Regions from separate parts of the Homo sapiens genome. Here regions 2, 3, 4, 5 and 6 are each reported to be linked to region 1. The links are microRNA targets in miRTarBase. Many come from high-throughput screens and were not tested one by one. Region 1 holds a microRNA gene; each other region holds the end of a gene's coding sequence.
What was found. The annotated mature microRNA hsa-miR-4723-3p reads CCCUCUCUGGCUCCUCCCCAAA and lies in region 1 at 3,159-3,180, shown strand. An mRNA with a match to its seed (bases 2 to 7 or 8) in the 3' UTR can be bound and repressed. Matches are read on the target gene's strand: a 7mer-m8 pairs with bases 2 to 8, a 7mer-A1 pairs with bases 2 to 7 and ends in A, and an 8mer does both.

Region 2: miRTarBase lists CATSPER4 as a target of hsa-miR-4723-3p. Seed matches in the 3' UTR shown: 8mer at 518-525.
Region 3: the mRNA of ASAH2 is a reported target of hsa-miR-4723-3p. Seed matches in the 3' UTR shown: 7mer-m8 at 3,900-3,906.
Region 4: the mRNA of KCNN3 is a reported target of hsa-miR-4723-3p. Seed matches in the 3' UTR shown: 7mer-A1 at 2,092-2,098 and 7mer-A1 at 4,008-4,014.
Region 5: miRTarBase lists SMG7 as a target of hsa-miR-4723-3p. Seed matches in the 3' UTR shown: 8mer at 3,982-3,989.
Region 6: the mRNA of ASIC4 is a reported target of hsa-miR-4723-3p. Seed matches in the 3' UTR shown: 7mer-A1 at 1,318-1,324 and 7mer-A1 at 1,595-1,601.

What each region holds. Positions count from the first base shown.
Region 1 is chr17:28,357,554-28,362,522 of GRCh38, forward strand. It overlaps MIR4723 (microRNA 4723), which reads left to right and starts at 3,101; the gene lies at 3,101-3,181. VMA12 (vacuolar ATPase assembly factor VMA12) reads left to right here and starts at 94. Exons shown (of 6, transcript NM_152464.3): 1 at 94-328; 2 at 1,363-1,436; 3 at 1,762-1,851; 4 at 2,976-3,018; 5 at 3,182-3,294; 6 at 3,604-4,969. The coding sequence starts at 118. The coding sequence ends at 3,699. RefSeq lists enhancers at 1-139, 252-351 and a silencer at 1-61.
Region 2 is chr1:26,202,219-26,207,187 of GRCh38, forward strand. It overlaps CATSPER4 (cation channel sperm associated 4), which reads left to right. Exons shown (of 10, transcript NM_198137.2): 10 at 271-746. The coding sequence ends at 324. Among named protein-coding and RNA genes, the nearest start is that of CATSPER4, 14 kb to the left of the region's middle. RefSeq lists an enhancer at 1-209.
Region 3 is chr10:50,183,185-50,188,153 of GRCh38, forward strand. ASAH2 (N-acylsphingosine amidohydrolase 2) reads right to left here. Exons shown (of 21, transcript NM_019893.4): 21 at 1,677-4,320. The coding sequence ends at 4,131. Among named protein-coding and RNA genes, the nearest start is that of ASAH2, 66 kb to the right of the region's middle.
Region 4 is chr1:154,704,060-154,709,028 of GRCh38, reverse strand. KCNN3 (potassium calcium-activated channel subfamily N member 3) reads left to right here. Exons shown (of 8, transcript NM_002249.6): 8 at 757-4,969. The coding sequence ends at 1,053. Among named protein-coding and RNA genes, the nearest start is that of ADAR, 98 kb to the right of the region's middle.
Region 5 is chr1:183,551,182-183,556,150 of GRCh38, reverse strand. It overlaps SMG7 (SMG7 nonsense mediated mRNA decay factor), which reads right to left. Exons shown (of 23, transcript NM_001375584.1): 22 at 4,961-4,969; 23 at 1,960-4,333. The coding sequence ends at 4,220. It overlaps NCF2 (neutrophil cytosolic factor 2), which reads left to right. Exons shown (of 15, transcript NM_000433.4): 15 at 1-589. The coding sequence ends at 33. Among named protein-coding and RNA genes, the nearest start is that of NCF2, 37 kb to the left of the region's middle.
Region 6 is chr2:219,536,972-219,541,940 of GRCh38, forward strand. ASIC4 (acid sensing ion channel subunit family member 4) reads left to right here. Exons shown (of 10, transcript NM_018674.6): 7 at 95-186; 8 at 271-350; 9 at 661-765; 10 at 962-1,801. The coding sequence ends at 1,075. It overlaps CHPF (chondroitin polymerizing factor), which reads right to left. Exons shown (of 4, transcript NM_024536.6): 2 at 4,645-4,969; 3 at 3,975-4,154; 4 at 1,983-3,671. The coding sequence ends at 2,412. Among named protein-coding and RNA genes, the nearest start is that of CHPF, 4.4 kb to the right of the region's middle. RefSeq lists enhancers at 693-1,247, 1,248-1,803.

The sequences.
Region 1 (4,969 bases):
GGCCCGCCTGGTCCCACCCCGGAGCTCAGAGCAACTTCCGGTGCGCTTAGCGTTACTTCCGGCGCGCGGCGGGCGGAAGTCCGGGTTGGGGTCACCTGACCGGAGAGCCGGCTAGATATGGCGTCCTCTTTGCTTGCGGGCGAGCGATTGGTGCGTGCTTTGGGCCCCGGCGGGGAGCTGGAGCCAGAGCGGCTACCCCGAAAGCTGCGGGCCGAGCTTGAGGCCGCGCTGGGGAAGAAGCACAAGGGCGGTGATAGCTCCAGTGGCCCCCAACGCTTGGTTTCTTTCCGTCTCATCCGGGATCTGCACCAGCATCTGAGAGAAAGGGGTGAGCCCCAGTCTCCAGTCCGGGGTCCCCTCCTTGTGTCCAGATCGATTCCCTCCTGAGGTCTTTTCCCATCATTCCCCTTCTTCTACGGAGCACTCATCTAGACAAGTCAAGAGTCACTCCATAAATCCCAGGGCCACCCACTTTCTTAACTCCCATGGGAATTTCTCGTGGATGACAAATTTGCTTGTGCAGTTTCTGCTCTTTTGAGAGCCCCCTCTTCACTTCCAGGCACACCTAGGCCCAATTCACCCTTGAGAAAGTCTAGGTTTTTACCAAATACAAATATCACAGGTTTTGTCTCTTCTTTTTCTCCACTTTAGGAATCAGCTTAGCATAGTGAGCTTGTAGGAATCCGGATTTCTTTCCACCTCAAAAGCAAGAGTGGTGAAATCTGATACTTTGTTTTGTTTGTTTGTTTTTTTAATATAGGATGGCAAAAGCTGTGTTGAAAGATCTGGCCTGAGAGTAGCATGTGAGTTCCAGTCCTAGCTCTGTCACTAATCCTTTGAAGGAGTCATTTCTCCTCGCTGGGCCTCAGTTCCCTTATGTGTAAAGGGAAGGAACAGGACAAACTAGCACATAAGGTATTTTGCCAGAAGTAACATAGACCAGCCAGAAGTGCAAAGGGTAGACTGCTCAATTATTAGAACTAGAAAGGACCTTAGAAAGAGATTGCCTAGTATTAGTGTCCTCTGAGCATTTAGCATCACTATGACCTAAACTTATTTAGGGAAGAGCTGTTGTGGCCACAGAACTGATCTAACCCAAAGGCACAAGTAAATGGCTTACTTGTTAGTTATAACACTGGCAGGATAATTGAGAGCTGACAGCTAAAGTCACCTGCGCAGCACTGGGAGATACCTACATGGAATTATCCAAAATTCTTTTCAATTGAAAATGATCCTGGAAATGGATTAATGTAGAGATGGCCCTGTTTTATTTTGGTAGAAAGAAGGGCTACACCCCTCTTGATCTTAACCCTTCAACCTCAGCTCGTGGATCATTGTGTTTGTGAAACCTTTTCTTCTCAGATTCCAAACTATACCTCCATGAGCTCCTAGAAGGCAGTGAAATCTATCTCCCAGAGGTTGTGAAGCCTCCACGGGTATGTAAGGGATATGTTTGTGAGAGTGGTTATTGACTGAGTTGGGCTTATCCATGATACACTGAACTTATAAATCAACTTTTAGGCTTGAAAAATTGTTTTTGAAATCTTTGGGATCTGGGGGAGCCAGATATTGTCCTCCCCATCAGCTGTTTGGAAAATTGAGATCAAAAAAAAAAAAAACAGTTTCAAAGCACTGGAGTTACGACTAGTATGTGGGTCTCCTGATACCTTTAGCAGTGCTTTACCCCTGGAACCAATGATTGTGATGTGCTTTCTAACAAGCTGGGAATATCATTCTTCTCATTTGATTTTTCTGCTTCAGAACCCAGAACTAGTTGCCCGGCTGGAGAAGATTAAGATACAGCTGGCCAATGAGGAATATAAACGGATCACCCGCAACGTCACTTGTCAGGTAAGGACATGCTCTTCAGTACGTGGTCTAGGTAGCCCCTCAGAGTAGGGCCCTGCAGTGGAAGAAGATACAGAGTTTAGAAAAAACATGGAAACTTGGTTTCTATACTGTTCAGGGACCATAGGAAGTCTGCATACAAACAACACAGTTCCCATCTCATTCACTGAGACTCTGGGCTGAGATGGTGACCAAGTTTTAAACGTCATAGAAGTGGGAGTTAGCCGGGCACGGCGCTCATGCCTGTAATCCTAGCACTTTGGGAGGCTGAGGTAGGTGGATCACTTGAGGTCGGGAGTTCGTGACCAGCCTGGCCAACATGGTGAAACCCCGTCTTTACAAAAAATACAAAACTTAGCCTGGCGTGGTGGCGGGCACCTGTAATCCCAGCTACTCGAGAGGCTGAGGCAGGAGAATCACTTGAACCCAGGAGGCGGAGGCAGAGGCTGCTGTGAGCCAACACTGCACCATTGCACTCCAGCCTGAGCAACAAGAGCAAGACTCCATCTCAAAATAAATAAATAAATAAATAAATAAGTGGGAATGAATCTTGGAGGCTTTTTTTCTTCTTCTTTTTTTTTTTTGAGATGGAGTCTCACTCTGTCACCCAGGCTGGAGGGCAGTGGCAGGATCTCTGCTCACTGCGGCCTCCGCCTTCCAGGTTTAAGTGATTCTTATGCCTCAGCCTCCCAAGTAGCTGGGATTACAGGCATGCACCACCACGCCAGGCTAATTTTTTGTATTTTTAGTAGAGACCACGTTGGCCAGGCTGGTCTTGAACTCCCAGCCTCAAGGTGATCCTCCTGCCTCGGCCTCCCAAAGTGCTGGGATTACAAGGTGAGCCACTGTGCCCAGCCATTCGAGCATTTCTTCTGACAGGGCTCCCTACTACTCTATGGCATGCTCCTACCCTGGAACAGGAGAGTAGATGGGTACTGGCAGCCTATGTCCTCTCTCCGAAATGCCTGCTCTGTAGTCCAGAAAAGAGTCAAAATGGTTCCAGACAAAAGAATCCATGGGGAGGGCAGAGTTAATATGTTGGGGAATAGAGAGGGCTGAGCCAGACTGTCAATGGATGCTCTCTGAGCTGCTTCTATTCTGAATCATCTTCTTTTTCTTTTTCCCAGGATACAAGACATGGTGGGACTCTCAGCGACCTGGGAAAGCAAGGTGAGGTACTAGGAGATCAGGCTTCTAAAACCTTTTCCTGAGATGGGTCATGACACTCAGGCTTGTTGTTTGACTGAAACCCAGTTGGTGGGGGAGCCATGAGATAAGAGCACCTCCTAGAGAATGTTGAACTAAAGGTGCCCTCTCTGGCTCCTCCCCAAAGTGAGATCATTGAAGGCTCTGGTCATCACCATCTTCAATTTCATTGTCACGGTGGTTGCTGCCTTCGTCTGCACTTACCTTGGAAGCCAATATATCTTCACAGAAATGGCCTCGGTGAGTAGGCACTGGGCAGGGCAGGGTGCCCCTGGTGGGGGTGTTAGTGGGTAAGGGAGGACGTATGTGAAAGTGCCTTGCACAGGTTAGGTATTGAACAGATATTTATGCCATTAATAAGGGGAGCATTAGAGCTTTCCAGCAGTCACGGGAGGTTAGGTAATAACCCCAGGAGAAGCCACATTCTCTTTTCTTCCCCTCCCCCAACTTAGAGGGTGGTTGGGGGGCTCTCCATCCTCATTAAAGTTGCTGGGGTACAGAGCTGGTTGTTGGCCTGCATCCCTTAAGCCTGGTTCTCCCCATCTCCAGCGGGTGCTAGCTGCATTGATCGTCGCCTCTGTGGTGGGTCTGGCCGAGCTGTATGTCATGGTGCGGGCAATGGAAGGCGAGCTGGGAGAACTGTAACTGGTGCTTCATCATCAAGTCTAGAGAAGACTTTGGGGGCTTCAGGCTCCAATTGGCAGTCACCGACTCAGTCAACCCATCAGACTTTTTGTATTCAGCTCCAGTTAGTCAGAAGACCAGCCCAGGCCAGCTGCTGTTTCTGTGGGGAGCCCTAATCTTCTGTGAATTTCCAAAGGGAGCATTGGAGGAGATTGAGATAACACATCTTTAAAACAGAAAGAACTGGTCTTGGTCTATCAGTACCTCTTCCTGAATCTGGTACCCATCTGCCTTCTCCAGTTCATTCTAAACACTGCTGGGACTAGGGTTTTTCCATCAGGAGCAAATGGAATCCAGGCCTTCCCAGAAGTAGACCATACTGCCTTGAACTTGTCCATATGTACAAACTGATCACCAGCTTTCTCCATACATTTTTAATGCAGACCTGTAATTGAGTTCAGAAGCCTCCAAGAAAACAGAAAGGATCCCCTTTCTCCAGTTTGTGCTGGAAGAGGAGCTGATCAGAGACATCAAATAAGAGAAAGATGGGTTGCTAGAGGATGGTAGAACTGGAAGCAAGGCAGCTACCTTTTTGCAAAAGGAAATGGTGTTAGGCCCCTTTTCCAGAAGATAAGACAGACTCATAGAGATTAAATGATCACTATGGTCCTTCTTCTGTTAAATGGAGCCAAAGACGCCTATGTTGTTCTGAAGTCTTGTAATGTTTAACTTCTGAGAACTTAGATTAGTGGTGTGATGATAGAGTCTGTATAACGCATTGAAAAGGGTATCAGGCTTAGTTATTTATCCAATAAATATTTATTGTATGCAGGGTATTCCTATTTTAACTCCTGTGACAACACAAAGCATAGCGATTTCCATAGTTCTAACTGTTCAGGGTCTGCTCCTCCTGGTACACTCTTTTTGGTTCACTGTATGTACTCCTGTTGTCTTTTTTTTTTTTTCCAAAGCACTTTTCTGTTTTCATAAATTATATACTCATTCACTCAGTGGACACTTCCTCTACAATGTTTGCCAGTTTCTGTTAGTTGGGAGAAGTGTCAGCTGTGAAAAGAAAAAGTAGGTGGCATTTTACAGTGTTTCCAGTAACCTGAGCTATATAAAATTTGTGTTAAAAAGCTACACTGGGCCAGGTGAGGTGGCTCACACCTGTAATCGTAGCATTTTGGGAGGCTGAGGCAGGCGGATCACTTGAGGTTGGGAGTTTAAGACCAGCATGGCCAATATAGCGAAACCCCATCTTTACTAAAAATACAAAAAAATTAGCCAG
Region 2 (4,969 bases), not on the chromosome of region 1:
ACAAAACCAGCTGTCTCCTGAACTCCTGGAGAGAAAAAGGCACACACCCACGTTACTTAGTTTCTTTTTCTGCCCCTCCACACCATCAGCCTGGGATATACCCTGGGCTCCCAAACTCAGAGGGGGTACTAGGTAGGCTCAAGTTAGACCTATGAAGCACTTCTCTGGGAGGCCTGGCTGGGGAAGCTGGTGAGACTGGAGGAGGTGAGTAACGGAGGCTGCCATATCGGGGGGAGTGGGGGATTAACAAGAAGACCTCTTGGTTTGCAGGTTCATGACTCTAGCTCACAAATACTCCTTAAAAAACACAAGAGCAGCCACTGAGAGGCCAGGATGGGAGCCAAGGGGCCTGCACACACACACCCAGCCGCTGCGTCTTCCTGTGTCCTTAGTGTGGCTTGGCAGAGCCTGGCCAGAGCCCATCCTCTCCCTTATACCTGGGCAGAGGCCAGGGGCTGTGAAGGTGGCAGCACCTGCAGGTCTGGTGCCTGTGAGCCCCAGGTCCGGTGGAGCAAGGAGAGAGGAGGATGCTGGATGATGAGAGTGGGAACCCTAGCAGCAAGGATGAGCACAGAAGGGGGTGCTGGCCAACGCAGCCAGGATTTGACCTAAGGATGGGGATCCCTGGCCCCCTGCTCTTGCCCAGAGCTGGTGGGGGGCCTCAGTGGGCCCCAGAACCAAGAAGAGAAAGGCAAGGCCAGTGGGGCCAGACATCTGTGTGTTGACAATAAAGTTTTGTGTTGGAATCAATGTCTCTGACTGGTGGATCTCCAACTCCTTGGGGCACTTGCCTGGGTCTAATAGGAAAGACAGATCTTGCCCCTCAAAATCCCGTTTGTCTGGTGGGAGAGTCACAGGCTGCCCTGAAGAGCATCCAGTCTAATGGGAGGGAGAATTGCACCCCTAAAAATTTCTGACTTAATGGTAGAGATATAACCCTTGCCCTCAGGGTCCTAAGCTTTGTGGAGGAAAGTCTGGTCCTCATGGGAGGGAGCCCCTGTCTGATGAAGGAGATGGCCCTACCTGCTCTCTCCCTGTCTGAAGATGGAGACTGGTCCTCACTCTGGGGAGCCCTTGTCTGATGGGATCACCAATGACCAAGTCACACAAGTACAGGCACCTCCATCCTAGGGCAATGGAGACTGACTACTTAAAATGTGGGTCCTGGCAGCTTCCTAGAGGAGAGGAAGATTTTGCGGGTCAGATGAATGAAGTCTGGTGGGGAACTTAGGACCTGTGAAGCCTATTTGGGATCTTCATACTCAAGGCCACTGAGAGCCTCAGCAGGTTCCTGAGCTATGCAATCTGGGGAGAGTCAGAAAATTGTGGCAGTTATGGGCAATAGAAAGAGCTGCCTTGGAGGACAGGAAACCTCGGTTCTGGTCCTTCAGTGAGTCACTTGGCCTTGTTTTCCCCATCTGTGCGATGGAGAGAGGGTGAGATTGATCTCCATCTCTAAAATCAAATAATCCCCTCTTATCCCAGGAAGTGGAAGACCCATGGGATCAGCTATGTCCCTGGGATGCAGGTGTCAGGGGATAGCCTGGAAGGCCTGGACATCTGCCCTGTTGTTCAGCGAAGCCTGACACTTAGGGGCCGTGGCGATATTCACCAGTTGGAATGGGAGTCCCCAGAGGTCCACTGATTGCAGCTGATGGGAAACCCCACCCCCCATCGTCCTCCCATCAGCATTGGTTCCAACTCTGAAAAGCCCCCTGGGGTCTGTTGGGAAGGAGTCTGGCCCCTGGGGATGGATGGTGCACTCAGTAGGCAGATGAGAGGCAGCAACAGAGCCAGCAGTGCCTTACTGTCTCGGAGCCGTTAATCTATTCCCCTGTTTGAGCCAGGACTTCTTCCCAGCACCCTCCAGGACCATCAGCAGCACAGAGAAGGGCACCCAGCGGATTTTGCTGCTGCTGTTGCTACTTACTGGAGATGGCGCCCTCAACCTGCCTGGTGAGTATCTACATACTCTTTCCACCCATCTTTCTCTGGGGGCCCTCTCAGCCCCTCTTCTTGTTGGCCAGAGAGGGAAGAAGGTGGCAGATCAGATGGTGTCTTCAGGAGGAGCTAACAGTTTGAGTATGGCTATCCTTCACCCCTAACTGTCTGAAAGGCTTGGAGCATCAGTGAGCTTACAGTCAGGAGCACAGCAGGGTGACCTCCATGGAGCTCCTGGCCTTGACCATCTATCTCCTCCAGGATGCTATTTTGTCTATCTACTCCCTTCATCTTGTTTGTCATCTCATCTGTCTCTGCCTTTGTCTTTCCCATCCGGGCCAACCTAACAGCCTGGAGTTTCAGCAGGCTAGTTCCTTCCCAAACTGGCCTGGAACTGAGGGCCCAGGAAGTCATACTCTCCCCTTCCCCTTCCCCTTCCCTACTCCAGCAAAGAGCAACTACCACTCCCCATGCCTTACTGAGCCTGAGTTAGGAGTGGGGCCCCGGATTCTGAGCTCCTAGGACAGTGCGGGGGAAGATATTGGGAGGTGGCTGGAAATTGTGTGTCTCATCACCCCTATGGTCTCACCTGATGGGTTTCCCATCAGCTACAATCAGTGGACCTCTGGGGACTCCCTATGAGTCCATAACTTTTACCAGGGACAGGAGCATCCTTGGCAAACTGTCCAGGAAGCAGACACCAATTCTGATGACAGGAGCAGCAGGGGATAATCATTCCCAATAGCAGTTCTACTCATTGAGTACCTACTAGGTGCTAAGCATGGTGCTGAGTGCTTCACACGCAGTATTTCATCCTCATGACCATCAGTGAAGTGGGTATGAAGAGGATATGTCCCCACGGGGGACTTATCCTCCATCACAGAACTGAGATCCTAACCCAGGTCTGACTTCAGAGCCCAGGTCACACTTCTCAAGGGAGCTTCTGTGGGCAGGAAACCTCAATATCATAAAGATGTCAATCCTCACTGAACCTATAATTGCAGGGCACCTCCAATCACAATTCCAACAGGTTGCTTGTAGAAATTGTTAAGCTGATCCTAACATATGTAAGGAAGAACAAAAGGCCAAGAATAGTCAAGATAATTTTTTTTTTTTTTTGAGACGGAGTTTTGCTCTTGTTGCCCAGGCTGGAGTGCAATGGCACGATCTTGGCTCACTGCAACCTCCACCTCCCAGATTCAAGCAATTCTTCTGCCTCAGCCTTCCGAGTAGGTGGGAGTACAGGCATGCGCCACCAAGCCCAGCTAATTTTTTGTATTTAGTAGAGATGGGGTTTCACCATGTTGGTCAGGCTGGTCTCGAACTCCTGACCTCAAGTGATCTGCCCACCTCGGCTTCCCAAAGTGCTGGGATTACAGGTGAGAGCCACTGCGCCCGGCCTGTCAAGATAATTTTGAAGCACAAGATGGGTGACTCACCCGACCAAATATTGAGGCTTACTATAAAGTAACAGTAAGATAATGTGGTGTTGGTTGGGGGAAAGATGGACTTTTCCATAAGGGGGCAGGGATAACTGATTAACTATATGGAAAAAACATAAAGTCAGATTCAGTGGAAACATCCCTCCCTGCAAATAAAAACTTGAGACCCCTATAGCAAGACATATAGGTTCAGTGCAAACTAGATCTTTGTTGCAAATGGACCCCACAGATGACTAGAGTTTACAATGCTCCTCCACACTGAGCCAAGTCCCTCACTAGGCTAAGAGGAACATGGAGGCCCAGAGAGAGGTGAGACCTTCCCCAGCGTCACCCAGCAAGCCAGTAATAGAGCCAGGTGTAGAGCGTAGGTCCCCCTACCCTTTCCAAGCATCCTTGCCAATTCCCCTGGCCTGTTGCAATCCCTTAGCTCTGCACAGGGCCAGAAGAAAGTGGGTGTGGGACTGGGCAAGGTGGCTCATGCCTACAATCCCAGCACTTTTAGAGGCCAAGGCAGGAGGATTGCTTGAGGCCAAGAGTTTGAGACCATCCTGGGTAATATAGTGAGACCTCATCTCTACAAAAAATAAAAAGAAGGCTGGGTGCAGTGGTTCACGCCTGTAATCCCAGCACTTTGGGAGGCTGAGGGGGGCAGGTCATGAGGTCAAGAGATCAAGACCATCCTGGCCAACATGGAGAAACCCTGTCTCTACTAAAAAAATAAAAAATAAATTAGCTGGGCGTGGTGGCACGCGCCTGTAGTCCCAGCTACTCAGGAGGCTGAGGCAAGAGAATCACTTGAACCCGGGAGGTGGAGGTTTTAGTGAACTGAGATTGTGCCACTTTACTCCAGCCTGGCAACAGAGTGAGAATCTGTCTTTAAAAAGAAAGAAAGAAAGAAAGAAAGAAAGAAAAGAAAAAAATCAGCTGGGCGTGGTGGCATGCGCCTATAGTCCCAGCTACTCGGGAGGCTAAGGCAGGAGAATCACTTGAACCCAGGAGGTGGAGGTTGCAGTGAGCTGAGATTGTGCCACTGCACTCCAGCCTGGTGACAGAGTGAGGAAAAAAAAAATCAACTGGGTGTGGTGCAATGTGTGTGCAATGTGGTGCGCCTGTAGTCCCAGCTACTCGGGAGGCTGAGGCAGGAGAATTGTTTGAACCCAGAAGGCAGAGGTTGCAGTGAGCTGAGATCACGCCACTGCACTCCAGCCTGGTGACAGAGTGAGACTCCATCTCAAATAAATAAATAAATAATAAAAAGAAAAATGTTAGTCGAGTGTGGTGGTGCGCACTTGTAGTCCCAGCTACTCAGGAGGCTGAGGCAAGAGGATCACTTGAGCCCAGGAGTTTGAGGCTGCAGTGAGCCATGATTGCACCACGGCACTACAGCCTGGGCAACTGAGACTCTGTCTCTAAAAAAAAAGTGAGGGTGTGGATGGTGCCAGAAAAGAAGGGTTGGTGCATCTTCAGAATTAGGCGATGGGAAGGACAAAGAATGAGCCTGCCACCTGGGCTGGGTCACTTCCAGTTTTTTTTCTTTTCTTTTCTTTTCCTTTTTTTTTTTTTTTTTGAGTTTTGCTCTTGTTGCC
Region 3 (4,969 bases), not on the chromosome of region 1:
ACAATAACAATATGGGTCACTCTGTACAGTAATTACCTGTTCATCTGTTTGCTTTGTTCGTTAAACGCTAAGTTCCTTTTGGCAGGGAATAGCTTTGCCTTCATTATTGTTTCATTCTTAGGATTTAGCATAATTTCTGCCATAAAGTATATAGGTGCTTGATATAAATCTGTTAAAGTAACGTATACATTTTGCAATACAGAAAGCAATTTTTTTCGTCATTATTCCAATGTGTGTTCTTTTCCAAAATATATTTTCTAGAGTAAAACGAGTTCTAATTATTTCAAAGAGCAGTTAATTTGGATATGCAGATATTATTGCTTGCCCACTGTGGTAACCTTTAGGGCTGCTTGCAAATATCCTGGTTCTGTCACCTGCCCAGTGAAAAATGCACAGTAATGTGGAAGCTTCACGAACTATTGCATGATTCTCCCTGTCCCTTCCCCCTAATCATGGAAGCACCTGTTCCTGTTCCCTCACAATGGAAGAATGTTTAGAATGGAAGTCTCTGTCAGCCTGTGAACTCAAATGAGATGTGGAACAGATCCTTCAGCTAACCCCAATGGACAGGTCATGAGATCAAGAAATAAATCTCTAATGTTGTAGCATAACTAATCTGTCTTGACTAACATAATTTTATGACAGCTACTTCGGCTATCTCTTCTTTCTTACTATCAGAACTTGCCTCACTCTCTAGAAGCACAAAATACTAAATATTCTTTTTTCCAGCTTCCCTTGCAGGTAAGAGTAGCTGTGTGGCACAGTTCTGAACAAAGAAATAGAAGGAAAATTCAACTTGTGTTCTTACTATTTTCCACCTTCTAAAAGGGGATTATAAAGAGAACTCTCTCCTCCCATTTTGCTGCTGCATTCAATTATATGTAGACTTGAGGTAGCGATCTTTTAGCTAAGAGGATAAGCCTAAGAATTAAGTCAATATATTAAGAAGAGCCACTGAGTGGCTGCACCAAACCTGAATTTATCACTTCAAGACTTACTGCTATGTGAGGTTATAAATGTCTTTAGTGTTTGGATGGATGTTGATCAGGAATATTTTCTGAGTTACAGCTGAATGCATACTAACAAATTGCATAAGGAATGTGCAAATTTCCCTCTCCGATACCCTATCACTCTAAAATTTTGGAAGCCAATATAAACCAGCAAGTCAGGTTGGATACCCAGGAAGCAAGAGCATCATTTGGAAGAACTAAACACATGAGAAGTTCATCTAGTGATGAAACCTTTTGGCTAAAGATAGAATCCATGCGCTAATCTTAGAAAAAGACAGTAAGCTTGCTTACATTGGAGGAGAAGCATAAGAGGGCACATTAGAAAAGGACATTCATAAGTAAATTCATTCTTGGTCTTTTTGTTCAGAATTAGCGCATGAAACAATTTCATAGTTAGCTACCTGCCTAGGAAATTTTTTTGCCCAACTAGTAAAAAAGAGAAAGAAAATAAAAGAATTGTCAACCATACATGTGTTTTACCAGCAGTACATCTTCAGAAGTTAGAAAGGAACTGATAAAGAAGTGGTTCCCTTGTGCTTCAGTGGTTATTTACAAGTCATTTGTATCACTTTCCAACCTAACTTACATGTAATCTACCACCTTTTGTTCCACCTCTTTTTTTAAAAAAGTGTTCGTTTGTCTACATTACCTTTCATTAGACAATACTTTTATGAGTGTAATTCTTAATTTATTATTAAATAATCCATTGAATATTGACAATTTTACACAGTACTCATCAAAAAATCTAGACCTGGAAAAGAGATTATTCAGTGCTTTTCAAAGAAGTCAAAAAATCCTTAAAACCAGAGTAGGCAGGGTACAGCAAATAAAATGCAGACATTTTAACATGAGAAACAAAATCTCCAAAATTGTTCTCCTACCTACCCAATCTGCCATATTCCACTTTTTCCACCAATTTCAGGAGTTTCTGCCACATGGTTTGGCTCCAGTGAGCCAGTCCCTGCAGCATCCACAGACATGAATTGGATCTGTGTTTTTATATCAACAGATAAGTTCAATTACTTCATGATATTCTTTTATGCACAGGTAAAGAACTGATATTGATAATCCAGGAATTTGGTTTTATTTTTACACATGAACTGCGAACATAGAACTGCATGCCCTAGAAGAAATGACAGCTGGTGAGAAAATAGGTTTCTGTGCGTTATCTGGAGCCAAGAGTGCTAGGTGCAGTAGGATCAGTAGATGATACAGTGGCCACCTTGGTACAGTTGCCAGTGAGCTATCAGGAATCACAAGTAGATTTGAGGAAAGCTTCAATAGAAGGAATAGAGGTAGTGGAAACTGATTCATGAACCCTTCTGAGTAATAACAAATACTTTAAAAAACCATATCATAAGTTCTAATATAATTTTCTTGTCTGGAATCAGCTACTTTCAGGATCACTTGTTCTTTTAGGCTTCTGAACTTTTACACTGAAGACTGTGGCATCATCAGAAAAAAGATCACAACACTTGGAATCCCTGATTACCTAATCCTCCAGCAGTTAATGCCCAAGGAAACAGCCTCTAGGATACCAATTCATCAAAAAGTGTTCCAGGTTCATTCTAATTCAATAAATTATGTTGAGATTAAGTTATACATAATAGATGTTAATACTACCATTATGAATATTGTTATTATTTTCAAACCTCAAAGTTTATTTTTAAAATACAGATTGATTTTTTTCCCTAAAATGCTAAAGCTTTTACATACATACAAAAGTATGACCTGGGGTTTGGAAATTTGCTTTGCAGTCTGGGAGGTTGTAGTTAACTTAAAGAATTTTAAATGCAATTAGTACTTTCAGACAATCGATGTCAGACTGTCATATCTTATTCTTTGGGGTATGAAGCAAGGTATTTTACAATGCCCAAAAATAACTTTCAAAATAGTATTTAGCAAACTGTCTGGAGCCTCTTTCCCCCCAAATTAGAGTATCCAACACAGATGATACACAAGATATAACTTGAAGATTACTGATTTTTTAAATGCTTCCCCAGAATTTACATATTAAATCGATTATTTTCTCCTTCATAATAGTTACCTTTTGACACTTACACATTCACCCCAAGTACAAATTCACTAATTATCAAGGCCTAGGCACTATTATAATTCTGGGCATATAAATCTTAAATATTCTATGATTGAATGGGTCCATGAGTGAGTGAGTGAGCAAATGGTAAAAGAACAGATAAATTAATTTAGAACCTCTGCTTTGAGGAGTGCTTTCCCAGCCAGTAATATTTTTAATATCTACACTAATGGCAAAACTTTCTGGTTTGGGGTGAATTTGATTAATGAAAAGAGTCAAAAAATCATTTGGAATAAGTCTTGGGAGTAAGAGACACAATCCAGTGGGATAAGGACACTTAGGAAAACACAAGGCATGATCAAAATATTGGAAGTCTGACTTTCTCATAATTGTGTCCTGAAGGCAATTCCAGAAATGATTTGAGCATCCACAGCGGCTCTGAACTAGGCATGTTAACTCCAGAATGACTGCTTAGAAAGACTATGTTATTTTGAATGAAGGAAAACTGACATGCTGATTTTCTGTTTCTCTAATTAGGCTCATACATTCATGGTCAAGGTTTATATCATATTTTGTAAATGTGATTAGAAGAAAAGACCATTTTTCTTATATGTAAGATGAAGGGTAAGACTAGATGATTTCTATAAATTTTCCCAGTACTAATATTCAGTAATTCTATATATAAATAAATAATTTAAACATTGTTCACATTAGTGAGCCATTCTCACTAATATTTCAGAGGTTTTATATTGAAGGGACTCTCCTTTAAACAACCCCAAGACTTCAAGGGAAATCATGCTTTAGGCTGTAGACCACAAGATATATGGCTGCTGGAGCAAGATATATGGGACAAACCTCTCTCTCTCTCTCTCTCTCTCTCTCTCTCTCTCACACACACACACACACACACACACACACACACACACACACACACCCCTCCACCCCATTAGCAGTAAACTATCTGTCCCCAAACAGGGACGATTATAGAAGTCAACATGGTAGTTCACTAGTTCACATTCATTTGAAATCACTTATATAATGTGTAGAGAGTAAAGCTGTTCTTTAAATGATCTATCAACTTTTCACTAAATAGTTACAACTTCAAAAGCCGGGGAAGTGCCTTCAAATGAAAGTATGACAGCAGGCTTCAGAATGTCCTGCTTCCGATTGTGTCCAAAATATCTTATTCTGTAGATTCCAGGCTGGGCAGTGTCTGGAATATGCCATTCCACTGTTGCATTACTCAGACCCAGGAGTCCCTTGTGCCAATAAAAACTGTTGATAAAAAACAAACAAGCAAGCAAAACTCAATTTTACTCTTAAAAATGTTTAATTAGAAAAATACATGATTATTCATTTAATGAATATTCAGAGAATACCTACAATGAGCAAGGCACTATCAAGACATTGAAGATACAGCAATGAACAAAACAGACAAAAACGTCTATTTTCTAGAAGAGAAACTTTAAAGAACAGCAATTTGTAGAAACAGCTTTACTTGTTCTACCTTTCTACCTACCTAAATTATACTCACCCCAGGAAACCTTACCTGATAGCCACAAGATGTCTCTCCTGCTGTAGAATTGCAAAGCACTCTTTTAGCCCTTATCTGACACTTATTTTCACATCTAGATTCATTTGTTTTCTATATATATATGTGTGTGTGTATATATATATATATATGTATATATATATATAGAAAATGAATACATGTCAGACTCTCTTCTAGAAGTACTGAGGGTACAGTAAGGAGCAAGATAGATATGGTCCCAAGTTTCATGAAGCTTATGTTCTACTGAGTTGAAGATGGAAATAAATGCAATAAACAAAAAGCAATAAATATAAAAATCTTAAGAATGACAAGTTTAGTGTAGAAAACAAGATGGAAGTTTTTTAGGGAGATGTCATTTAAACTGAGTCTGCA
Region 4 (4,969 bases), not on the chromosome of region 1:
GGATTGGTCAGTGGGAGGGTTTGAACTGTGATACAGTCAACAAAGACCTCAGCCCTTCAGAGTGGCCCTTCAGGGATGTCCCACCCTGAGGCATTGTGGATCAGGCAGGCGAAGGGCCACACCTCAGCAAGGCAGCCTCCTTTGGCTAAGCACTGTGCCTGAGAGTTAATTCACTTTACATCCTGTCTGCTGGGTTAAAATAGAGGTTGGGAGATGTGCAATAACTCCTAACTGTGTACAGTTATTATTAACTCCAATTTTATAAGGCAACCGAGATTGAGAGAGGCCAGGCGCCTGGCAGAGGGCACACTGTTAGTGAGCTGCAGATGTGTACTTGAGCCCTGGCCTACTAATTATACACCCACTGCACTGTCCATTCCCCACCAGCGTCTTCTCTGGAATCATTAGATGCCAGCAGCCATGTGAGCTGAGAGGTTGTGGCCCTGTGAGAACATGAGACAGTTTAGAGACTCACTTTATTTAAGAAAAAAAAAAGGGCCATTTTTTTCCCCTTGGTGCATATTTTCTAATAAAATGCTGTCATTAATACTCATTACTTTTGTAATAAGAAAACAAAAATGTGCACACTTCAGCATCCCCATCCCCAGGAAAGAAGCCTGTATCCTTCCTTGACCAGATCAGCTGGTGTGGAAGTGGCTCCTGTCATACTGTGGAGGGCGTTTCATTTCTCCCATTGCAGATTCCTCTGTGATGACCTGTCATCTCCCTGTCTCTCGCCTCTCTCTCTCCACACAGATGCAGAATGTCATGTATGACTTAATCACAGAACTCAATGACCGGAGCGAAGACCTGGAGAAGCAGATTGGCAGCCTGGAGTCGAAGCTGGAGCATCTCACCGCCAGCTTCAACTCCCTGCCGCTGCTCATCGCCGACACCCTGCGCCAGCAGCAGCAGCAGCTCCTGTCTGCCATCATCGAGGCCCGGGGTGTCAGCGTGGCAGTGGGCACCACCCACACCCCAATCTCCGATAGCCCCATTGGGGTCAGCTCCACCTCCTTCCCGACCCCGTACACAAGTTCAAGCAGTTGCTAAATAAATCTCCCCACTCCAGAAGCATTACCCATAGGTCTTAAGATGCAAATCAACTCTCTCCTGGTCGCTTTGCCATCAAGAAACATTCAGACCAGGGAACGGAAAGAAGAGAGACCGAGCTAATTAACTAACTCATGTTCATTCAGCGTGCTTGGTCCGACATGCCTTGAAACCAGAAATCTAATCTCTGTTTAGGTGCCTCTACTTGGGAGCGGGAAGAGGAGATGACAGGAAGCGACGCCTCTGGCAGGGCCCTTGCTGCAGAGTTGGTGGAGAACAGAAATCCACGCTCAATCTCAGGTCTTCACGCGGGGGGTGGGGGTCAGATGCACTGAAGTAGCCAACAGCGAAGCCAGTCCAGAAGAGGGGTCCGCTGGGAGGGAGGGTTGTGTCAGGCTTGGGGGATGGGCTCTTCGCCATGGGGGTCTTTGAACACACCTCTCTCCTTTCCTTTTGTCTACGGAAGCCTCTGGGTGACAAAAGTAAAAGAGAGCTGCCCACAACTTGCCAAAACAGATATACTCGAATCAGACTGAAAAAAAAAAAAAAAGACACAGACAAATAAAAAGCCAGATTTTCCACTCGATATTAATACCCACATAAACCTGTGTGTTTGCAAACGTGTACATGTACACACATACACATCCCACGTTCGCTTCAGGTCCTTTCTTATTTGAGCTTAATCCAAATAAAAAGGGACTTGACACCTTACCCTGCATACAATAGGCACCCCTTACATGTGTTTTGAGTTGGTCTGAATCTGAACATGGGGTGCTTTCAGTTCAGGTAGTTAGCTAGTTCTGGCCACATTCTGAGTTTCACTGAAGATGTGGATCCCTTCAGACATAATGCACATTGCTTTGTCCTGGATATGCACCTTGCTTGATTTGAAATGGATGCCAAGCCAAAATTGTTGGCATTCAGGAGGGATAAGCAGGCTTCTAAAAATAACAGCATCTGCAGAGTTTTCTTCTTCCATCCAAACAAGTTGTGTTTCGATGGTCCACATGACCAGGTGTATGTCTGTAAGTGTGGAGGGAGAGGACAAGAAATTGTGCATGTGTGTGCAGACATGCACAAACAGGAGCAATCCAATAACACCTTAGTGAATAGAAATATGGTTGGGGATTTGCTGAGCTGTATTTATCCAGCAACAGGTTTCCAGCCCCAGATGTTAGTAGTGCAAAAGGGCCAAGTGCCTCAATTGTGAGCCTCTGAGCTAGGAGGAGAAGTGATGAAGAGTGGCCTATGTGGTCCCTTCTACCTGACCTTAAGTCATCTCAAAATGAAATATTGTGAGAATGAAGGGAACCCTTAGGGAACCTTGTGGGTAAGGTAAGTGGACATGGATTTGTCAGTAGCCTGTTCCTACTGTGCCATGTTAATCTTGGTGCGAAAAACTATTCCAATACATCTCAAACTCCAAGAGACTTCAGAAACATCAAGATTTAGTGTAATGAGCGGCGCAGAAAAATGTTTTCATTGCTCCATAATCTGACCACACGTAACATTTGTGACGTGAAAACCATGACTTTCTCATTCTGAGGTCTTTGGTTTCTGCCTGTGGGAAATTGAATGGCACTGTATGGACTATTTCATCTGTTGATGGTAAAACAAAAGGGTGATTTTTTTGCTTGTGGTTGTCATCTTGGGTTTACCTTTGTAAGAAGACATCATCACCATTCTGAAGGCAGTGGCTTGGCATGGAGATTTTTATTCTGTAGCACTGGGCCTGTTCTTCTAAGGACAGCACAAGGTAGACAATTGTAGAGCCAAGGCCACTTTTTCAGGAAGATCTAGTCTCTTGCTAACCCTCTTCTTTCTCTCTTGCTATTGCTGCTGCTCTTTTGATGGTTTATAGTCTTAATGGCCTGCCTTGATAATTCCTTTGAACACTTTCATTAGTTGTTTTGCATACCAGAGATGCCGCACCTGCTGTTGGCTTATTTTTTTACTTGTTCTATTAACTGTTGATTATCTGAATGTTTCCCCTCCTCCTTGTTTCATGTCCCAAGAATGGTGCTCCTGTTTTCAGTGACAGTTCAGCTGAACATATAAGCAGATGTGTAAACAGATGAAGTAACCATGCAGTTTCCTTGTGGCATTAGTTCCATTTCACAAAGTGAAGACCACTGGTGGGCTGATCTGAGTGTGCCAATCCTGATCATTTAAACCTACAGCCTTCAACTGGTGATTCCTACCCACCGTTTTCATTCTGCTATAACCCTGTGATATGTGTGCGTGTGGGTGTGAGTGTGGGTGTGTGCACATATAGAGATTTAGTCTTAATTTCAACCAAATGACATGCAAGATTCCACTGCCACTCTTCCTGGCCAAAAGTGTGCACAGACTGTGATTTATTCATTGTGGTCTGTGACTTTAACCCATCATTGATGCTCTCACTTAGGTAAACCCTAAAGACCAAACTAGCAACACTAGTCAAGGGAGTGACTGGAGTTATTTCTGGTAGCAGTAGCCACTGGCATCCTAGAAACACATGGACATTTGTAGCATGAATTGACCTATTGGTAGTGCAATAGCTATACATGATTTTTATTCTTGGCAAAAGAAAATGCTTCAAAAAAAAAGTGATCAAACCTGCACATTGATCCTGTAATAGCAAATGGAAGGCTATTTCTCTGTACTAGCATTTCAGCTTTATGTGGGAAAGTTACCCGTTCTCCTGCAAGTACAATCAACCCTTGATGACTTAAGTATTAATTATTCTGGGTGTAGCTCACCCAAGTTTTCTTCCTACATCTTTTGGCTAATTCCACCACACCTCAGCATCACAGTCAGATGGGAAAAGGGGCAGGTGGATTCTCATGTCATGCCTTCTTGTACCTTATTTTCAAGTTTTGTGGTGGAGGAGGTTTAATTATCTGCTCAAGAATCTGGTATATATAGCCAGGTGCGGTGGCTCATGCCTGTAATCCCAGGACTTTGGGCAAGGCGAGAGGATCACCTGAGGTCAGGAGTTCAAGACCAGCCTGGCCAACATGGCAAAACCCCATCTCTACTAAAAATACAAAAATTAGCTGGGTTTGGTGGTGGACACCTGTAGTCCCAGCTACTTGGGAGGCTGCGGCAGGAGAATCACTTGAACCCCGGAAGTGGAGGTTGCAGTGAGCCAAGATCGTGCCATTGCACTCCAGCTTGGGTGACCGAGCAAGACTCCGTCTCAAAAAAAAAAAAAAAATCGGCTATATGTAAAAACTATTAATTATGTAACCTCACTCCAATACTGTACTGATCAAGATCTGCCCACTCCTAGAGGACTGACCCAATGGCAGATCCCCTACTATAATCTTTCTGACAACTCAGTGACAGGTAAAATCACTCTAATATTCCTAAAATATCTAGACACTTGAATTAGAAATACAGAACCACCCCCACCCCTGCCATTGCTTAAGCCATATTAAAGCTTCATGTACTGTAAAGTCAGGGATGTACTGTGATACTTTAAGACCACTAATCTCAGTGGAATTTCAGGACATAGCATTAGTTGGTAAATTACACCAGACTAGGGGCTCACTCCTCCTTAGATTGAAGTCCAAATAAAAGTCTTCACCTTTGGATCAAAGGCCACATATATATGATCATCATCAATAAATTGTCATAAAGTGTCTATGAACTGCTCTTGCCATCTTCCTAATACGTAACTTCATGACATCATGTCTCTAGAAGTGCTTAATACAATCCAAAAGAACAAGGGGGGAAGGCCCCAAGTCACCACTGACCGACCTCAGCAGGGGCCAGTGGTAGAACAACAATCTTGTGAATTAGGAGACATAGAAAATGTACGCAAAAGTAAATTCCAAGCGCTGAGCATGTACAAGCTATTTTTATTATTAAAAGCCAAGAAGGAAGAGCATTGAAGAAGTAATGATTTTAATATAGTGGGGGATTTCCCCCT
Region 5 (4,969 bases), not on the chromosome of region 1:
ACAGATTTGGAAAGCACTCGGAGAGAAGTCTAGGATGTTTCACAAACTACAAAGCTGAAGAAAATGAAGCCCTATTACTTGTTTGTAAGATTTAGCACCCTTCTGCTGTATACTGTACTGAGACATTACAGTTTGGAAGTGTTAACTATTTATTCCCTGTTAAAATTTAACCTACTAGACAATGATGTGAGTACCCAGGATGATTTCCTGGGGCACAGTGGGTGAGGAGATGGGGACAGGTGAATGGAGGAGTTAGGGGAGAGGAAAAGTGGATGGAAGTGTCTGGAAAGGGCACGAGAGAGTCTTCCAGGTACTGATCCTGTTTCTTGCTCTGAGTGCTAGCTAGCCAGCTGTGTTCACACTGTAAACATTCATCAAGCTGTACATTTGGTGCACTTTTCTGTGTCATACCACAATAAAAAAAAACCTAGCATCTTACAAAAACAAGACACCCAAGTCCAGGCCCAAGGAGTAAGTACAAATATTCCTGTTTCTGAACCATTACTGTAATTGGCTCTTAAGGCTTGAAGTAACCTTATAGGTTACTCATAAGGCATATACAAATAAACTTGTTTGTTTTCTTTTTTCATTATGTCTTGTTGCTTAAACAGAACCTAGACTGAGTTAGGTTCTCATGGACTACAACACTCAATTCCACAGAGAATTAATAGAATTACATACCTTTGTACATTCTCAGAGAGGAACATGTGTTAAGAACTCAATACTGAATATATATCAATCGCCAACATTTAAGTGATGAAAAGCAGCGGTGTTCATGAAGCTAGTTCGTAAGTAGTATCTTGTTAGCTGACACTTCGTAATACAGTTATGCACTGCTTCACAATGGAGACATGATCTGAGAAACGTGTTGTGCAAACTCATCTAGAGTGCACTTACACAAGACTAGATGGTATAGCCTACTACACAGCTAGGTTACCAGGTATAGCCTACTACTCCTAGGCTACAAACCTGTACAGCATGTTACTATGTTGAATTCTGCAGGCAACTATACCACAATGGTAAGTAAGTATCATCAGTGTAAACAAACATAGAGAAGGTCAGCAAAAATGTATTATAATCTTATGGGAGCATCATTGTATATGCAGTCCATTGTTGACCAAAACATTGTTATATGGTAAATGACTGCATATACTATGCTATACTAATATACATAACAGAATGCTATGGATTTGGCTAACCCAATTGTCCAATTTTTCAGGATTAACTTGGGTGAAGGATTCTGTAACTAACTAAACTATTAGACCTTAAGGCCTGGCCTTAGTTCCTCTCCCTACCCACTTCTTGTTGTAGCGTATGTGGAGCTTTGCTAACAATTTTTCAAGTGTGCAGGCGCCTGTGAAAAGCAGAATAAGGAAGTGAACTGCAGACTGAATCAACATGCAGGTGAAAGGATAGCCGGTCAGGGTGAGCACACAGGCATTAAGGTTAGCTATACCACTGGCTTCCAGCACACAGTTGGAAGACCCAGCAAGCTACCAATCACTGGAAACTTTGGACACAACTCAAAGAAAAGAAACCCCAAAGCTAAGAAGAAGAATTAATTAATGTTGCTGCTAATCAGATTCAGTGAATTTTTACAGGCCAAAAGGATAAACTCTCTGAACTGCCTCAGTAACAGCTACAATAGGAATAAAAATAAAAATGATGGGCTCTTAATTCCTTAACATAAGGCATTCTTTTATTAAATAAAAGAATTTTGATAATCGATTTCTTACTACTCATGCCTTTCCATTACAATTAATTATAATTTCCGTAATTCATTGGTTTGGAATGCTACTAAAAGCAAAATTAACCCTGAAAAATATTCAAGTTCTGACCATTTATGCCTTTCCCTGGATGACCTGTGAGTAGTTGAAATTCTTGCCTTTTAAGTTGGATTTTCTTCAATACTTCTTTTATATCTTTTAGGATAGAAAAGAAAGAATCGATACACAGATCTGGTTGGAGAGAACATGGTTTAATTAAAGGCAAAGCTGATTTTCAGCAGCTGCAGGTCTTGCACAGACAAAAACAAAAAACAAAACCCAGAAAACAAAACAAAAAACCACAAAAGAAAGTTTACTACACAAAACCAGTTTCTGATAAAGATTCTCCTCCCCCTCATTACTCCACAGTGAGGATGATAAGGCGAGGAATCCCGCCCCAAGAGTCAGAAAACATTCCAAACACCAAATTCTCATGCAGAATGGGGCTTTAGATAGGAGCTGGGTATTACTGGGAGTGAGATGGTAAACCTGGTTAGCTTGTCTAGGGCGCAAGAATCAGTGACAGTTCAAACACTGGAATGTTGCAGCTGCCTGAATGCAGAGCTCAAACACACAAACTGGGTAAAGGTAGTAGGAAAAAGGCTTGGGAAGAGGAGAGAAAGGTGGACACAGGGAAGGGGCTGAAGAGAAGCACAAAAGGTTTCATATTGCCATTGGGTAGGGGGCTTCACCTTTTCAGACCTTTCAAAAAAACAAAACCCAAACACCATGTCAAACTAAAAGAGCAATAATGTAAGCATACGGGGCGGGGGGGGCTCCAACCACTCTCTCTGAAGAGCAATGAGCGTTATCTCACCCCTTTTCATTGCTGGGGTTGCCCAGACTGCAGTGACAACTGGGGCTCCTGGATGTGCTTTGCTCTACAGCTGTCTTCCAGCTCTTAAGTTCCACACTAACTCCATACACTCGCACACACAACCCCTCCCCTCTGGGACAGCAGATGGGCACGTGTGTGTACACAAACATACAGACACACAAAGGAGAGACCTCCCAGAAAATAAACCCTACCACTAGCACAGCAATTGAACAATTAGATTGTTTCCATAATTTCCCCTTAAAATATTACTTTTCCAGGAAATGACTAACAGAAATGCTGTCCTTCTGTTTCTACACAAGAACATTTTCAGTCCTCTTTCCTCCTAATAAATATCATACAAAGAGTTTATTTTCCTTTCTTTCGTCTCTTCCAAAATGGACGACGTCGTGTTTTCTTCTGTGCCTGATGGGCACATGTCCGTGCTGCCTTGAATTTCACTCTGAAAGTGGAGGCTGGGAGACTGCAGCTGGGCAGGGGCCTGGGCCCTCTGTGGGCTACGCAGATACTGCTGCTTCCTTCCTCTTCAGACTGTCTTTTGGGCCCCAACTGCTGGACCCCATGCTGTTGCTTCTTGGGGAGATGTGATGTTGCACACATTAGGAATAAAAACAATTACTAGCATACAGCATTGGGTAAAAGAAGGGATGGAGATGGGGCAGGAGGGTGGGAAGTAGAATGGGGGCACAAAAACCAACCAAAGAAAAAATAACCACACTGAAAGCTTCTACCTATTAGAACGTGTCAGGCTGTGAATGGACTAGCCTGCCTTCTGTGAGACTGCTTGCTGTGCGACTGTAAAATGTACAGGAATCAAAAACGTAATTTGAAATCCTACAGCAGTCTACCTGCTAGTCCAGCCCAGCACCACCACCCACACTGTATCCTCGATTGGGGCTCGAGCACCTACAGAGTGAAGGGCATTCCCTGCTGGAGTCTCCTGGCCAGAGGAAGGCCTACCAGAGCCTTCTGACAGGCCTTGAACTCTCCCTTATGGAACATTTCCACTGGCTGAAGAGGTCGGTTCCCCATCCTGTCACCACCAACCTCTCACAGGAGCAGTGAACGGGGCTTTCCTTGCTACACACTGACTAGAAGCACACCTGTGTATGGAAGAATTCAGTGTGATATTTTACTACTGAGAGTAATAATAATAAAAGATGTTTAAGAATAATTTCAACTACATTCTCAGTCAGCAAAGCAATCATTAATGGATTCCTATTTTATTCCCCAAAGAGGAAAAAAGGACTGAGAAGTTCCCATTGGCTTCTCCCATCTGCCTTCCCTTCTCAGCTTTCACTTCCCATGTGGCTGGGGACATGCACGATGGAGAAGGTGAGAGGCGGTGATACCAAGTAACTGAGTGAGATAAACAGCAGTTCCTCTCTCTCTCCCTCCGGAGGGCCCCGGGGGGACGGAGAGTTCCTGATGGATTTTTCTTTTTGTTGCACTGCGAACATTTCGTGCACACTCAGCGGGCTGGTGGAATACTTACACCCTCTTGACAGCGAGAAACAGAAAAGAGGGCTGCCACCTGCAGGGGACTGTGTGGGCCAGTCCTGCAAACCCAACATGCCATGGTTTATGGAGCCTTCATTCCCAGGTTGCCACTTTGGCCTCAGTGTGGAGGGTTCATGGTGCCTTGTCCCCGTTGCTGTTTCTGCTTCTGCTGCATTAACAGCTGCTCCAGAGCAGAAGGTCCAGGATGCATCATGGAACTGGACCAGATAGACTGAAAAACAGTCCAGATCTTGTCAGCAGAGGTCAAATGCCAAGTTGTCTGAAAGGGATTTTTCAATCCCAGCCAAATATAAAGGCATATATATGGCCCCAAAACCCAACCCCACTCCCCATAAAAATCCAGCTATTAGAAAAAGTCATTATAAGACTCTTAAAGCTAGTTAGTTTCCATTAAGACTATTTTAAACCAGAAGAAGTGAAATCACATTTTATGTCAAGTCTTTTTACTGAAACTCAGCTGTATGTGGTACCACACAGGGCATTTACTATAAAGTTTTCAGGCAAATAAAACATTTCTAAAATTAGATACTCTTATTTTGTCAGAAAAGGCTTAAATCAAACATTCCAAAATGAATCAGAATTTTCTTAACCTTAGAATGAAACTAAAACCTTTGTTTTTGTCCTCCTGAAGATACTGCTTTACCACTAGTGAATTCAGAAATTAAAAATTATCACTCAAGAATCTTGTAAGGCAGACCATGTTTCTAGGACTTTGTTATATATGTGCTATGTATCAGTCAACTCCGAGGGCCTGAGAAGTCTAGCTATTTATGTGAATGAAAGCAGAGACACCTTTGCTGTAATAATCTTGTGGTTCTTGTTCCTGAAATCTACTCACCTTTAGGCT
Region 6 (4,969 bases), not on the chromosome of region 1:
GATCTCTGATCAGGATCTGCTGGATCCAGGATGCCCCTGCCAGCCTTCTCAGGAAGAGAGGCCCACACGGATACCCTGCTTCCTGTCTCCACAGGGAGAACTTCCTGGTCCTAGATGTCTTCTTTGAGGCCCTGACCTCTGAAGCCATGGAGCAGCGAGCAGCCTATGGCCTGTCAGCCCTGCTGGGTGAGACTGGTGTCCCTGCCCCCAGCTTGTGTGGGGGTGGATCGGCCCGGCCGCTCCCTCTGACACTGCTCTCCTGCTTCCCAGGAGACCTCGGGGGACAGATGGGCCTGTTCATTGGGGCCAGCATCCTCACGTTGCTGGAGATCCTCGACTACATCTATGAGGCAAGGGCCCTGGAGAAGGCAGGGTGGGAGTGGGGGCCGTGGGCAAAGCAGAAGGGGGCAGTGCGGGGTGCCTGGTGGAGCTGGCCTGGCTGGAAAGTCAGGTTCAGGGTTCTCTGCCAGGGTCCCCTGACTGGCTGGCAGGCCTGAGGGCTCAGAGTCAGGAGAAGGGGATGGGTGAGGAGGAGGAGGGTGTCCTACTGGGAGTTTGCTGTGGCAGTAAGTCCTGTGGGCAGCTGGGCATGGTAAGGCTCACGCTTCTCCTCAACCAAATTTCCTGAGCCCACTGCTGTCCCCGACCCTGAACCCCAAGGTGTCCTGGGATCGACTGAAGCGGGTATGGAGGCGTCCCAAGACCCCCCTGCGGACCTCCACTGGGGGCATCTCCACTTTGGGGCTTCAGGAGCTGAAGGAACAGGTGAGGACAAGCTCTAAATGCCTGCAGCATGCAGCCACACCTCCCCAGGACTGAATACATCCATTGTTTCTGAACCAGCCTGTGGAGGGGGCCCTGGAGCCTCTGCCCGAGGTGACAAGGAAAGGCTGGCGGTGTGAGCCCTGGGGGCACCACTTGAGCTCTCCCGGTCCCACTCTCTCTTTTCTTTCTCCTGCAGAGTCCCTGCCCGAGCCGGGGCCGAGTGGAGGGTGGGGGGGTCAGCAGTCTGCTCCCCAATCACCACCACCCCCACGGTCCCCCAGGAGGTCTCTTTGAAGATTTTGCTTGCTAGGACGGTGCTGTGACTGAAAGGACCCAGGAGTCTGGGACCCCTCCTGGGATCCCCAGCACATTCTCCTGCTCCTGGGAGAGGCCTGGGGGCGGTGCTCACTGGGAGGGCCAGGACTCAGTTCCTGCTCTCATCCTCCCCTGCCCTGATGTCAGCTGCTTTGCACAAAGGTCCTTCTTGTCCACACCCCTTATCCCCAGGCTGGTGCCCCGGGAGGGCTGGAGACCAGGCCATGGGCCCTCACGGAGAGGAAGGGAAGGAAGGAGAGGGAGGGGGAGGATAGAGCCCATCCCAGCCGGGGAGGGGGAGCCCTCTGTACATTTGTAAATATTTAGGGAAAGCCGGGTGGGGGGAGGGGATACAGATGTAGAAGGTGGGTAGGGCTACAGGGGTGGGTGATTTAGGGACAGCCAGGGTCCCAGCCCCAATGTCAGCAGGATAGGGAGAGCCCCAGGACTCAGGAGTGCTGGGCTGGTCCTACTTCCTGCCCCTCTCCAGGCCCAGCTCCCCTCTTGGCAGGGGGAGAGGATGGCCCAGCAGGCCTGGCCCAGCTCCCAGTTCCCCCTGCACCAGCCCCACCCCTAGAGTCCCTTCTATAGGGAGGGGGCAGGAGACCTTCCAGACTTCGGCTGAGCTTGGAGGGTGGGAAGGGAGCCTTCTCAGTCCTCTCTCCCTCCAGTCTGATTTTATAAAGTGCTGACGAGATTGGGAATAAAGAGGCATAAAGAATTCTCTGTGTGTATGTGTGACCAAGCACGCACTGGGGGCCGGGGTGAGGCTGGGCACATGCATGACTTGGTCCCGGGTGAAAGGAAAGGCAGGCCCCAGCAGGGGCAGGGGAGCCTGTGGTGCTCAGCCAGTCCTCCCTCCCCCACGCCTGCCTACCTTTTCAAAACCTCTGAATCACAAGTCCACACTTGGCCAGTTTATTAAAGGCAGGGAGCTTCGGCAGGGTCCAAAAGGGAGAAGTTGGGAGATGCCCCCTCCTCAGCTCCCTCCTTCCCCAACAACTCTTCTACAGCCCAGCCCCCAGGGCCCAGAGGCAGGGCTGGCGTCAGGCAGACTGTACTGCATAAATACGTGGAGGCCACAGCCCGAATCAGCAGCGTCAGGGGGCAGGGAAACTGGGTTTGGGATGAGAAGTGGGTGGCTCTGGGGGCACGTCCCCCAGTGCTTGTCCAGAGCCCAGGGACCCACAGAGCCAGAGAGGGGACCAGTGGGCCAGCTTGGGGTCTGGCTACGGCCAGCCCTGCCCAGCGAGGCTGGCAGGTGGCTCTGGTTTTGGGGGAGAAGTGGGGTGGGGTGTGGCCATGCCACGGCCCACGGGGACAGGGTGGGGTCAGGTGCTGTTGCCCTGCTCCTGTTCAAAGAGTAGCATGGCCAGCTGGGTTCGGGAGCCGAGGCCCTCAAGCACGCTCTGGAGGCAGCGGTGGTACAGGTCCTCACTGAGCCTCGCGCTGCACGTCTGGGCCCGGTAGCGCTGCAGCAGCGCCGGCTCCACCGCCCGCAGCACATGCAGACTGGAGAAGTGGAGGAACAGCTCGTACACATCCAGGCTCTCCAGCAGCTCCTCTTCTTGTTCTGAGGCTGCCGCCAGGCGCCCACGGGCTGCCACATAGTCGGAGTTGTAGAAGCAGGCCTCGCTGGCTGCCTGGCGATCAAAGCGGCCAGTGTCACGGCCCAGCTCTGGGGGCCCAGGCCCTTGTGGTGGGGCCACAGCTGGGTGGAAGGCTTGGAAATGCATGGGAAAGAAGGCCTGCCAGCCGGAGATGGCATGCATGCGGCAGCGGTTCAGGAAGTCAGGCGTGAGCACCGTGTCTGGCCCGGCCAGCAGGAACAGTGTGTCCAGCGGGTGCTTCTTGGAGAGTAGATCCATGAGGCGCAGTGGTGAGGGTGCGGCTGTCTGCACACTGAGCCATGGCACCCGGGCACCGGGGAAACGCCGCTCCAGCTCTGCCACGTGGGCCTTGACAGGTGCGAAGACATCTGCATGGGCCACGCGCTGGGCCTGGCGCGGCTCATACAGTAGCAGCAGGGTCAGGGCTGCCGCAGCATCACCAGGCTCCAGTGCTGCAGTGGCAAAGGCCTCCAAGAAGCCAGGGGCCAGGTCACGCTCAGCCGCAGCTAGAGGCAGCAGCACAGTGAGACGTGAGGCCTCAGTGACATAGGGCACAGGCAAGATCTCCACGCGGCTCAGCGGCCGGAGCAGCTGCACTCGGCGAGTGAGGGGCCGGCGGCCTCCCTGGGGGGTCAGTGCCTCCAGCTGCAAGTCCAGCGTGTATTCCATACCCCGGGCCGGATCAAAGCGTCGGTAGCCATTCACCAGCTGCTGCTTCTGGAGCCGCAAGGCCGGGTGGTAGCGGCGGTTCAGCTCCTCTAGAGCTGTCCCCAGAACATCGGCCACATCAGCCCGGTCAGCCCCACGCAGTGGGCAGCGGGGTGAGCCATCGGCGCAGGAGAAAGCGTGCTGCTCCGTGAAGTAGTCCCAGCGCAGCACCTCAAAGCGGGAGGCCGGGCGGGATGGTGCTGGAATACCCACGGGCCAAGCAGCTGCCTGGTCCCCATCAACGGCCAGATGGCTGGTATTCTGGATCTCCCACTGGATCAGAGAAACAGGCCATCAGCAAGGGACAGATTACAGGGAGCAGCACACAGCTGGGGGACTGGGTAGGCAGTAGGTGCCACTCAGGATGGGCCCCTCATCCCCTGCCAACCTCTGCCCATACCTATCATTTCCCCAGCATAGACAGCCAAGAGGCTCATCAGAGAATGTAGAAACAGGCAGGGGCTGGGAAGTAGTTTTGTTCTGTGATTCTAGTGCTAACTTGTCATTTCTCTGGGCTCTCTGTGACTTCTCAGATCCTGTCCCCGTCACTCTGCCACCCCCAGACCTAGACCATACCTGTAACTCCTGGATCTCCTGGTACGTGCGTTCCAGTTCAGCTCGGGCGAAAGCTTTGTGCAGCTGGTACATGTGCACAGGGTCACGCACAGGGTGGGCTGTCAGGGCACTTCGGAAATGAGGGTCCCCCTCCTGCACTGGCTCCCCAGGGCTCAGCTCCAGATGGCTATAGTGCACCCCCTGGGGAGAGGAAGGGAAGGGATCTGTGATGAGCTGGCATTGTCTTCCGTTGTCTCATAGTAAGTGTCTCATCTCCTCAGCCTATGACCTGTTGTGGACTTGCAGTCTGAGGGTTTAAGTCTACCTTGACCAGTTGTGAGTCTGTGTGACCTTCAGCATGCCTCCGCTAGCTCATCTGCGAAATGGGCATGCGTCCTGTCTCAGAGCTGTCCAAGGGCTAAAATAATAACTAACATCAAATGCCTATTATGTACAAGGCTCCCTGATTTTTTCTAATCCTTGTAACAACCCCGAGCAATAATTATTTCCATTGGCACAAAGGAAGATACTGAAGCCCAGGATATTTAGTAATTTACTGGGGGTCACAGAGATAGAAAATAAATGTCCGAATTGGCATGGAAAAGCAGACCTGTATCTCCAACATCCCTTTGCCTCTCAGAGGGATTTGAACATGACAAGGAGGTATCAGTGGGATAGCTTATCATCCCACCTCGTGGTCACCAGTGCAGCCCACCCCGGTGGCATCGAGAATGCAGCGACCCAGCCACTCGTCAGGGCGCGCACTGACGATGTCGTTGCGGCAGCCTTCCAGGTGGGGGCGCAGTTGTTGCAGCAGCATGCGCGACAGCAGCACCCCAAAGCCTCCGTGGCAGTAGCGGCCGGGGGTGGGCTCTCCGCCGATGAAGTCCTGGGGCCGGCCCAGGTACAGGTGGGCGGCGGAGGCCAGGCTGAGGTGGCCAGTTAGGCGTGCCAGGCCGTGCGCCTCGGTGTAGGTGGTGTCAGGCACCAGGAAGAACCAGTCAAAGTCGTCGCCG